Linked DNA regions of Homo sapiens. The protein of the gene in region 2 interacts with the protein of the main gene of each other region in a pairwise test. Each region holds a gene or a part of one and is shown on either strand. Other genes may lie near its edges.

Region 1 (3,911 bases), on a different chromosome or scaffold from region 2:
CCCCTTCATCTGTTATGGTGACATCTCCAAGTAATGTTTAAAACCAAAGAGTACATTTTATTTTAAAATTAAAGAGTTCAGTAGCTAAAAAAGCAGCAGTACCCCCTGTTCGGAATGCCTTGGAATCTACTTTCCCCAGTTTAAATAGTTGGAAAGTCACCATGAACCTCGGATGCTCTTCTTGGCAGTAGAGAAAAACTGCCGTAACCACAGCTCAGAAATATACACACCCCTCAATGGAACTGGCTTCTTGCCTTCTGTTGTGAGCATACATCACAAGTCAAAATGAATTAAATACAAATCCAGTTTGCAATGGTCCGTCACTAAGCTGCCTCCCAGGAGCGAGCCGGCAGCATGTGGGTTGGAAGGGGGCCCACAGCGTTCCCTGCGCTGTCTTGAATTGGACTGCAGTCTGTCTGACAAACCAGCCCCACAAGGGAGTCCACAGCCTGGTGGCTCTTTGACTGGGATGGGGTAGGGGGTTGCCTTGAGCAACTGTGGAAGCCTAGCCAGGGGCCCAGAAGCACAGGCCTCCTCAATCCAGGCCTCTACAGTCAATCAAATGTCAAGGAATCGTCACCAGAAGAAACTTTTCATAGGTAAATAGAAGCAGGGCCGAGAGCTGACAGTGGGGATTTTCCAAAGAAATGGAAACAAACGTACACAGGCCACTCACCAGAGACTATAGCCAGCAAGAAACAGGAAACGTATCAGGTTAATATTTTAATCTGTACATCACATTTTTTTTGCAAACCATTACATTTTTAAATTAACTTTTTCTTGCAAAATATTCATTTCATTTTTTCCAAGAAAATCTTATAAAGGCAAAAATAAAATTTTATTTTGGCAAATGTCATGAAGTCGATACTGGCAGCATATGGAGTTAGTTAAAAATAGACAACAACTGCTAGATATATTCAAAATTCTATTTTTTTTTCTGAGCATAGTCAAAGAGAAATTTTCATTTAAAGTGTGGCTCCACCCAATGGAGGTTTTCGTTGTTGTTGTTTTTTCCATTTAAACGTCATTGTTTATATGCAGAATAATATAAGAAAACAACTTAAATAAAGGGCCACAAACACTGCACCTGGCTTGGTAGCCCCCCTCCTCATGTGGGGCTGGAAGTCAAATCAAAGTCCTGCCATTATGGCCCTGCTGGCGGCAGGCCATGAGGGATGGTGGGGGCACACTGCTGCCCTCCTGCCACCAGACCTGAGTCCCAGGGAAGCCAATCCGGGGTTCTCCAAGGGCAGGCAGCAAAGGTTCCCATCATGGCCTGGTTAGAGGGAAGGGATTTCTAGGTAGATGTCACCCAGTGTGGAGTTTATTGCTACGATACAATGAAAGTTGCTTCCTCTCACCTTTTCTGTATTTCAATGTGTACTGTTAAAAATGAAAGCAGGCTGGGCGTGGTGGCTCACGGCTGTAATCCCAACACTTTGGGATGCTGAAGCGGATGAATCACCTGAGGTCAGGAGTTCGAGACCAACCTCACCAACATGAAGAAACCCCCGTCTCTACTAAAAATACAAAATTAGCCGGGCGTGGTGGCACATGCCTGTAATCCTAGCTACTTGGGAGGCTGAGGCAGGAGAATCACTTGAACCCAGGAGGCAGAGGTTGCAGTGAACCGAGATCGTGCCATTGCACTCCAGCCTGGGCAACAAGAGTGAAACTCCATCTCAAAAAAAAAAAAAGATAGCAAACTGCTTTTTTCTTTCTGACAAGAGCCTTTTGCTGGAGGAAGCCTGGGGGCAGGTTGTGGGCCCCAGTCCTCTTGAACACACTGTTGCCCCTAAGCCAAACCCAAGGGGCAAGGCACAGACTTGGGCTCCACGTGTGATCCTCGTGGAGTTTCACACAGAGCTGGTCATCAGGTCAGGGACAGCTGATCTCTGCAGCCAAGGGCCCCTCTTCTCCCAGACAGCACGCCAACCAGCCTCTTGCTGGAGTCTACTGGGAACACCTCTTTAAATCTCACTTTCTCCTGAGGTCATTGGAAGTTGGACTAGCCTCGGCTTGCCCCGCCCTTCCTGCCCCCACAACACCTGTCACCCAGAAGTACCTGAATCTGTACGTGCAGCTGCAAAGTCCTGCATCCTCAACCTTCCTGCCACTCAGCCCTTGAGGGGAACATTAGAAAATAGATTCCGATTCTAAAATACAGTGTATTTTACAGTGTATATCAAAAGTGCCTTTGCCATTCATATGTAGAGAGGAGTCTGAGCTAAACTAGTGGGTGCATATTAGGGCCTGGCCTGTGGTGAACACCCGCAGTCGGTAAGCTGCTCCTTCCTCCGGCCGGATTCCCTGCTCAGCTGGAAGGGGTTTCCTTGGGGGCAGAAAGGTCATCTCCTTGGAGGAAGCTGGTTCCACTGGGCCCCTGGCTCCAGGCTTCTTTGCATGCTGGGTCACGGGTCAGTCACTGCCTGGGCTGGCAAAAAGCACAGGAGACAGTGAGAGGCTGGCATCCAGGGAGCAGGCACGTCTGCACACACATGATGGAATGGCAGATAGGCGGACAGGCAGAGCAGCAGAGCAGGGGGCTCTGGCAATGCGGCCGCTGCTGGGGGACCCTCAGCTTCCAGGACACATGGGGCTCTTGCCCCACCCTCCCTGCACCCCTATTCCACTGCTAGACACATGCTGGCCCCTAAATTGGGTCCCCATCCCGACAGGGCAAAGACTCTAATAAAGGTGCAGTCTGGCCCTGCCCTTCATTCTTTCAATGTGGGTAGCGCTCTTGGCCTCTGTGGGCCTTGTTTTTCTAACCTAAAAAACATGGTGGTCATACCCACTTCTTAACAAGGATGCTTTGAGAGTAAGAAGAAATGCAGTACTCCAAAGAGTATAATAGGCCAATCTTACAGCCATGGGGGCACCAAAACCCAGGAGGAACAGAACCTCTCTCCTGCCTCTCTGTGACTGAGCGCTGTTACTGTGCTCAGATCTCTAGGAGAAAGCCACACCCTCAAATGTGGCCTTCACAATGGGCGTGGCTAGAGCACTTCCCTATGGCTCCTCAACCACGGGGCCTCTACTCCACACCTCCTCAGAGCCTGGCCCAAGGAGGCTGACCTCTTCCTCTCATGCTCAGGCTGGCGGGGACCTGCTGACTCTGCTGTGAGGCACGGGGAGCACCCAGGATAGACACCTGCCAAAAAATCATGCTTCGCTCCCTGCAGCACAAATACTCTCTCCCTCCTTTCACTTCTTTCTCCAAACACCTAGAGCTGCTCGGGGCGGCCCAGATGAACCCATGAGTGGTGATGGGGAACAAAGGCTCTGAACTCACATCAAAGGGGTTCAAACCCCAGCACTTAACAAGCTGCGATTCCTTGCGCATATCCCTCAAGGCCTCTGAGCTTTTGTTTTTTCATCTCTAAAACGGGGAGGGGGGGGGGAATATCTTCATAGGGTTGTTGTGTGGATCGAAAGAGATACTTAGCACAATGCCTGGCACACAGCAGGCACTCAACAATGTTAACCACAAGTATACGTAAAGGAAGGAGAGGGGAAAGCCCTGCAAAATGATAGTGGGATGGGATGTCAGGGTAAGGACTGCCCAGACTGGTAGTCTGACCTTCCCCTGTCCAGGTGAACCGCTGGGCTCAAAAGCAACAGGCCCAGGCCAAGAACTCACTTGAGACTGGACCAGATGCCAGCCTCCTGTTTCAGGGCTCCCTCCTCATCCCACACTGCCTCTCATCACTAGATGCCCACATGGGGAGAACTTGGTAGGGTTGGTGCCAGAGCTTTCTGCCTGGCTGAGGGCCAATTTCACATTGCCCTGGGCTTCCCTTTCTCTCCCTCTTAAAGTGCCCAGTGACCAAAAGGGCAGTCCCAGTCTCTGCGCTGACACCAATTCTTTGTGACCTGGAGTGAGCCCCAGCCCCTCACTGGGCCTCAGT
Region 2 (7,516 bases):
TCCTGCAAGAAGGGGGCATGGCCTCAGATGCATGTAGTACAAACAAGTAAATTAGAGGATCCTCATTACTCCTGCAAAATGAGTCTCTTGGATCACGGTGACATAAACTCTTGGCCATGTTGTTCTGCACACTCTTGCTCCCCTAGAACATATGTAGAATGCAGCGTGGAGCCAACTCTTACCTTCACAATGGAATTTTCTTTAAATAATATTGCACATACTGCTTCATCAATGTCTTCTCTAGCTAATACCTAAAATTACAGAATTGAATATTAAGATGTGAATCCTGAAGAAACAAACTACAATGACAAAACTCAGTGTACTTTACCAATAGTTTTAGTGTAAATCTTGAGGCTTATTTGGTAACATAAAAATATGGAAAATTTCTAAACCCATTCTCTGTGAACTTGTCAGCCAGGCTCGAGTGATTAATTCCAAGTCAATCTTATTTCATCCAATAAATCCCTACTCATTTTTCAGCACCCCCCCACCCAGACTATTTAAAAAAAATCCCTGATAGCATATTATTAAATTACGTTTTAAAGCACTAAAAAGCTTACTAAAGGAATCCTCTTTTCAGGCATTCAGTAGGTGTTTTTTGTTTGCTTGCTTTTTGAGACAAAGTCTGGCTGTCACCCAGGCTGCAGGGCAGTGGTATAATCCTGGCTCACTGTAACCTCCGCCCTCCAGGTTCAAGTGATTCTCCTGCCTCAGCCTCCCAAGTAGCTGGGATTACAGGCACATGACACCACAGCTGGCTAATTTCTGTGTTTTTAGTAGAGACAGAGTTTCACCATGTTGGCCAGGCTGCTCTCGAACTCCTGACCTCAAGTGATCCACCCACCTTGGCCTCCCAAAGTGCTGAGATTATAGGCGTGAGCCACCCCACCCAGCTAGTAGGTGTGTCTTAAAGGGCCCTTGAAGTTTCCCGCCTTTTGCTAGATCTCTTCATAAGTCAAAAACCACAGAAAGTTCCCTTTAGTTCAACTGGTCCAGAATCTCAGAGCTAATTAGTGAGAGCTCATGGCCTCCAAACAACATCATCCACATCTAGGGACTTGCTATTTCCATTATGAGTTTGGGTAAAGCTGATGCATTTTAATCCCCACTTTAGGGCTTTTTCAGTTGGATCACTATGCACTAATCTCTAGCTTTTATTCTTATAGGACTAAGTGTGAACAAATGAAAAGGCAATGAAAATCCAGTATCTGGAAGAGATAAATTGTTACATTAAAAATTATTGCTGATGAAAAATGATACAGGTTCTTAGAACTGTTATTCAATTTCTGATTCTTCTTTCTATTCTGCCACACTGAATGCATCACAACAAACTAAACCCCAAACTCAAATACCAAATCTGTGAATAAGAGAAATCTCAAAAAAGGAAAGTTGTTCTTTTTACCCACATATTTAATAGCTTCACATGAGATCTAAAATGATATTCAAACAGCTGCCCAGGTCTTCCTAAAATAAAGCTCTCTTTGTAATAGGAACAGGATCTTGCTTTAAAGCCTTCTCAGACTTATTTTAAGAAGACAGGCCAGGCAGGGTGGCTCACGCCTGTAATCCTAGTGCTCTGAAGGCCCAGGCAGGAGAATTACTTGAGCCCAGGAGTCTGAGGTTACAGAGAGCTATGATTGGGCCACTGCACCCCAGCCTGGGCTACAGAGCAAGAACCTGTCTCTAAAATATTTTTTTTAATTAAAATGAAGATGGCAACTGAAAAAGTATGTAAAACAATTAAACATGTATCCTGACACTACAATAAAAATTTAGAATCTATTTATTTATTTGGAGAAGCAGAACATATTGACAAGCATCTTGGGAAGTCACCTTCTTAAAGAACATCCTAGTAAGATTGTTAACAAATGTTATGTACATTCTTGAGTCAGATTCTCAAATAATCTTTGTTTAAAGAAATTAAACAGTTTTTGTCTTTGATGGCTCTTCTTTGTGATTTTGCCAGGAAATATAAGGAAAAGGTCATGATTTGCAGCAGCACTTTTCGAAATCCACAGCTTTCTGTGCACACACATAGAAAAATTAAGCATCTCACTGCTCCGACCGCCACTAGGGCAAAAGGGGAAAAAGAAAGGAAATTTCCAAGAGTTTTTCACAGCGAGGCAAATCATAGGATGACACAAAATAATGAAACTTTTTGAGAAAATCATTACCAGACGCTGAAGTATGCAGAATTGACTGGCAAGCCCAGACCTGGCTTCTGCCGGGGAGCTGGGGTGGCTGCCTTCACCCGCCCGGCTGCCCGCCCCCGTCGGTGCGCCAGCCCCCAGGCTGGCGACTGGAAACACTCTTGGCCACACTCTCGGCCAAATCTGAGCCCGAACATTCCCCTTCAACGCCTGCTTTAAAGCAGGCACTGTCACAATCCTGAGAACAGAAGCGAAATTAAGATAAACAGTTCCCAAACTCGAGGGGTCCCCCCGCCAAAATGACGTCTCAAAACGCCACGTTATCTCACCTCCATTAAAGAAACGGACTCGGGCTCCGGCCATTCTCTTAACTTTTCTGGCCTGAAATGTTCATCATAACTCGCAGTTTTGGTGGCAGCCATGGACAGGAGAATCCCTGAGGGATGAAAAGGTAAACTGAGGCTGAGGAAGACGGTTACCGTTGAGAGCCAGGCCTTTGGGCTCAGGGAGTGTTCAAATCCCGCTCGGCCCCTTTCTAAAAGCTGAGCCGAGTCACCCAACAAACTGGGATCCTTGGCGCCCTAGGCGCTTCAACAGGCCCGGCTACCCACTCCCGTGTCGTCCTCGGGCCAAAGCGGGCCTTTCCTCCGGGGCGCGCCCCCCTGGCCCTGCCACAGCCCTCCCTGGGCTCCGCGACCCCCAGGCCCGTAGGCCTCCCCGGGCCCCACCTCAGGCCAGCTCCGGGGGAAGTCGCAGGCCCCGCGGCTCCGTCCCGGTAGGGCTCCCCCGAGGCCGCGTCCTGGAGCGGCGACGGAGAAAGGAGCCCGCGGGCCCGAGCGTCGGGGCGCATGCGCCACGCCAGATCCCGGGGTGCTGCCCCGACGCCAGCTGGACGGTGACGCCGAAGTCCCGGGAAAAGGAAGGGCGCCATTTGATTTCACAGCAAACGGGCGGTGACACCGACTTCCCGGGAAAGGGAAAGGCGCCATTTGATTTCACAGAAAACGGAAACGCAGTGATGAAGCCCAGCGCCTGGCCCTCGCCCTCCCTCCACGTCTGTCTCGGGGGCGCCCTCCCCTCGCAGGAGCCAGGGCACGCGGGCCTTCAACCGCCGAGGCCCCCGCCGCCCTTCTGGACTTTTATCGAGGCATGTACACTAATACGAAAGAGAATTTGCCATTTACCTGTAAGATTGAGGGTGACAACGTAAGAGGAATGGTTTTAAGTGACGCGTCCGGCTCCTTACTCCCACTGAAGGGTGAAGGTGCCACAGGTGGACCTGGTTTGGATTCTGATGTGAAGAAACCGACTTCAAAACATTTGGGCCAATCAGGAAAATGCGAAAACTCTGACTACAAATTTAATGATATCTAGAATTATTGTTAATAGTTTAAGGTATGGTACATTATCACAACCAAGATTTGACATAGCTACAGTCAAGATACAGGATATTATCTTGTATCAGGTGTATCAGGACACCACTACAAGGATTACTCTGTTTTCAGCCAATGTTTCTTCAAGTATGTTTTTTAGTCCTGCCTGTTTCTCTCGTCCTTCTGGGATTCTGATGACATGAATATTATTATAGCCCCCACAGCCACTTAAGCCTCTCTTCTTCCCTCCACCCCCAGTCTATTTTCTCATTTTTTAAGATTGGGTAATTTTTATTGTTCTATCTTCCAGCTCACTGATTCTTTCCTCCATCTTCTCTATTCTACTGTTGAGCTTAACTGCTGAGCTTTTTATTTTGGCTATTGTAATTTTCAGTTCTACAATTTTCATCTGGTTCTTCTTTGTATCTCCTGTTTGCTCAGGATTTTTATTTTTTCATTTGCTTCAAGTGTATCCATATTTGCTCATTGAAGCAGTTTTCTCATAGCAACTTTAAAAGTCTGTGAGCTTATTCTAACATCTTTGTCATCTCAGTGCTGGTCTCTATTGAAGTCTGAACATTTTCAGTTTATATTATGAGACTCTGGATCTTATTTAAACTTTCTGTTTTAGCTGGCTTTCTCCAACACCAATCTAACAGGGTTAATGAGGTTACCACCTCATTACTGCCAGATGGAGATAGGAATCCAGGTGCCCCAGTTGGCCTTCATTGACACTTGAGGGGCCAAAGTTCCTCATTACTGCTGTGTAGACCATGATTTAGAGATTCTAGTCAGGCTAACTGAGAGACCATTCAGCAAATTACTTCCTTATATGGTATAATCTTCTCGAGAAAAGGAGCTGAATCTATCTCATCTTTACATCTTTCTCATAACATGGGACCATCTATGACTGACCCAAATAGCAGGCGAACAGAAAATTCCTGTTGAGTAGACGACATACACAGAAAAGTATAATATACTGATGGCTTAAACTACATTAAGTATAAGCAAAAGGTGATACAAAATAGGATTTTTAATTTCTACCTAGCTTCTTCCTTACTTCATTTGAAAATAAAAGTTTCCCTGATTTACTGAATCAACTTATTTCAATCTCATATGATTTAAAAGCTTACCTGAGCATTTGTCTCTTTACTTGATGTTCCCTGGCAATGTCGCCTTTTTTACATGGTGAAAATAACTGTTAAGGATTTGAAAGATTCTCCTTTCAATAGGTAGTGCTTCACTGAGTCTTCACCTAGGCTCTTGCTGCAGGCTCTGTGTCTCTTTCTACATACCACAACTAAGTCAGTTAATCTCATAGTATTAAAATCTTTTGTTACTGTTTCTCCCACTAACTTTAGGGCAGAGAGCCTATGTTGGCTCATCCTTATATCCCCAGAACCTGGCAGAGCACCTGGGAAAAACAGGCACTTAAATACTTACTAAGTGAATGATGAATAAATAAATGAATGAGACATAATCCCAACATCTACACAAAATGAAATTTCAATGTCAACATATGAAAAAAACATTTAAGAGACTGAAGACTTGTCTACCAGGAGAGCATCAAGCCTTTTGAAGCTTTGCAGTCGGCCTCTGGTTGCCATTTTGGCATAGCTAGTATTTTTAGTCATTTATAACTGTAATAGAGAAAAGCATTTCTATCCAAAAAGTCTCTTTAAATCAAAAAGTCTAGGCCAGTCATGGTGGCTCATGCATGTAATCCCAGCACTTTGGGAGGCCGAGGTAGGAGGATCGCTTGAGGCCAGGTGTTCAAGACCAGCCTGGGCAACACAATGGGACCGCGTCTCTACAAAACGTTTAAAAATTAGCTGGGCATGGTGGCAGGCACCTGTAGTCCCAGCTACTCAGGAAGCTGAGGTGGGAGGATCACTTGAGTCCGGGAGGTTGAGGCTGAAGCAAGCCATGCTTGTATCCACTCCAGCTGGGAGACAGAACAAGACCTTGTCCCAGAAAACAAAACAAAAGTCTCAATGTTTGTGAAGTGTACATGTTAACCTTAACCATAAGAACAAATTTGCACCTAGATTTTTATTTTAAAAGTATGATATAGATTTAGGCTACCTGTTATAAAGAAAACTTAAGAAATTTCTAAATTTACTTGAACGAAGGAAAGGCTATGGAGAAGGCAGTAATGACTGATTCATGGAACAGAACTGATTTACCGAGACTTTTCTCCTTCTATAAAAAGTCAAGGTGAAGTAACAATATCCCTTTAATGCTGATGTGATTTCTAGAAGTCTGTTTTGACTGATGAAGTAATATAAAAGGGAAAAAATGCCAAGAACTAGAGTATTATAAAATCCTTCAGGGTCTCCCCATAAATTCCAAACGCTTTAGCATGACCTGTAAGATTCCTGCCTGTCTTTTTGGGCTCAGCTTTCTTCAGTGATTCCTGGCCTCCTTGCTCCACATGGTGGATTAGAGATGCCTGCGTGGTCCCATCTCTGGCAAATCCCTGACTCCACTCACAGAGGTAGACTTTTTTTTTTTTTTTTTGAGATGGCGTCTCTTGCTCTATTGCCCAGGCTGGAGTGCAGTGGCGCAATCTTGGCTTACTGCAGCCTCCCCGTCCTGGGTTCAAGCGATTCTCCCGCCTCAGCTTTTCTGAGTAGCTAGGCTTGCAGGTGCCCCCCTACCATGCCCAGCTAATTTTTGTATTTTTAGTAGAGATGGGCTTTTGCCATTTTGGTCAGGCTGGTCTCAAACTCCTAACCTCAGGTGATCCACCCTCCTCGGCCTCCCAAAGTGCTGGGATTACAGGCGTGAGCCACTTCACCTGGCCAGAGGTGGACTCGATGGCAGCACCTCCCTGTTCTTCTCTGTGGCTAATTGGTCAAGGAGTGTACACCTGACCCAAGTCTAGGATCAGATTCTCCTGTCTTTCTTCTAGGATTATAGACGTCTAACCAAAACAGAGACTTGGAAAGGTGTTGTGAGTCACGTTCATGACAACAGCCTAGAAGGGTCTGAGATGCCTGCTGCTCAGGGGCCAGTGCTGTCAAGGTTCCTGCCATTCCTGTGGAATTCAGTTTTTTCTCAGGGTTCTGTAAGATGCTTTGGCACTCTTTCAATGAAATTTTTTTTTTTAATCCCAACCACTAGACCACCAGGGACCATTTGTGCTTATGTTAGCTCTGGTTAGCTTGTTACTTGCAATACAAATGATCTCAAATAATACAGAAATAGTACAAGGCTTCAGAGGAAATGTGAGATATTTGGAATTGGTATTCGTGTCAAAGTGCAGGGAAAGGAAAGGCATCTTCTCTTCACCATGTGGAATGAGCAACTATATTTGTGATACGACATCTGGGATTTGCTTCAAAGTCATCCAGTTAGGGTTGAGAAGTAGGTATGCATATACACAAAACAAGACTGGACATGAGGTAATCAGTATTGAAGCTGGATGTCAGAAACATAAGGATTCATTATACAATTATAATTATTTTTTCTGTAATTCTCTGAAATTGTGCATAGTATAAAGTTTTAAAAATCTAGTTTTCAGCCAGGTGCAGTGGCTCATGCTTGTAATCCCAGCACTTTGGGAGGCTGAGGCGGGTGGATCGCTTGAGCCCAGGAGTTCAAGATCAGCCTGGGCAACATGGTGAGACCTCATCTCTACAAAAAATACAAAAAATTAGCCAGGCATGATGGCGTACACCTGTAGTCGTAGCTACTCGGGAGGCTGAAAGGCGGAGAATTGCTTGAACCTGGGAGGTCCAGCCTGCAGTGAGCCATGATCATGCCACTGCACTCCAGCCTGGGCAACAGAACGAGACCCTGTTTCAAAAAAAAAAAAAAAGAAAGAAAGAAAGAAAATCTAGTTTCACTTAGAACCATATATTGATTAGGGGTGAGATGTTGGGAGACTAGATAACTGTCAGGGTAGAATAATTTAAAGAGGATGAGGAATATGGAATGAGAGAAAAATGGATAATTTAAAGCAAGATAATATAAAGCTCAGATGCCAGA

Evidence for each region.
Region 1: the proteins of FAM228A (region 2) and PLEKHA7 interact in binary tests that used the Homo sapiens proteins (3 or more experiments, as listed by UniProt).

The regions. Positions count from the first base shown.
Region 1 is NC_000011.10:16,776,587-16,780,497, forward strand, and holds the end of PLEKHA7 (pleckstrin homology domain-containing family A member 7), read right to left. Parts: intron 2,435-3,911; coding exon 2,412-2,434; 3' UTR 711-2,411; downstream 1-710. UniProt on the Homo sapiens protein: Required for zonula adherens biogenesis and maintenance. Acts via its interaction with CAMSAP3, which anchors microtubules at their minus-ends to zonula adherens, leading to the recruitment of KIFC3 kinesin to the junctional site.
Region 2 is NC_000002.12:24,170,537-24,178,052, reverse strand, and holds the start of FAM228A (protein FAM228A), read right to left. Parts: upstream 3,001-7,516; 5' UTR 2,879-3,000; intron 2,587-2,878; 5' UTR 2,573-2,586; coding exon 2,480-2,572; intron 252-2,479; coding exon 183-251; intron 1-182.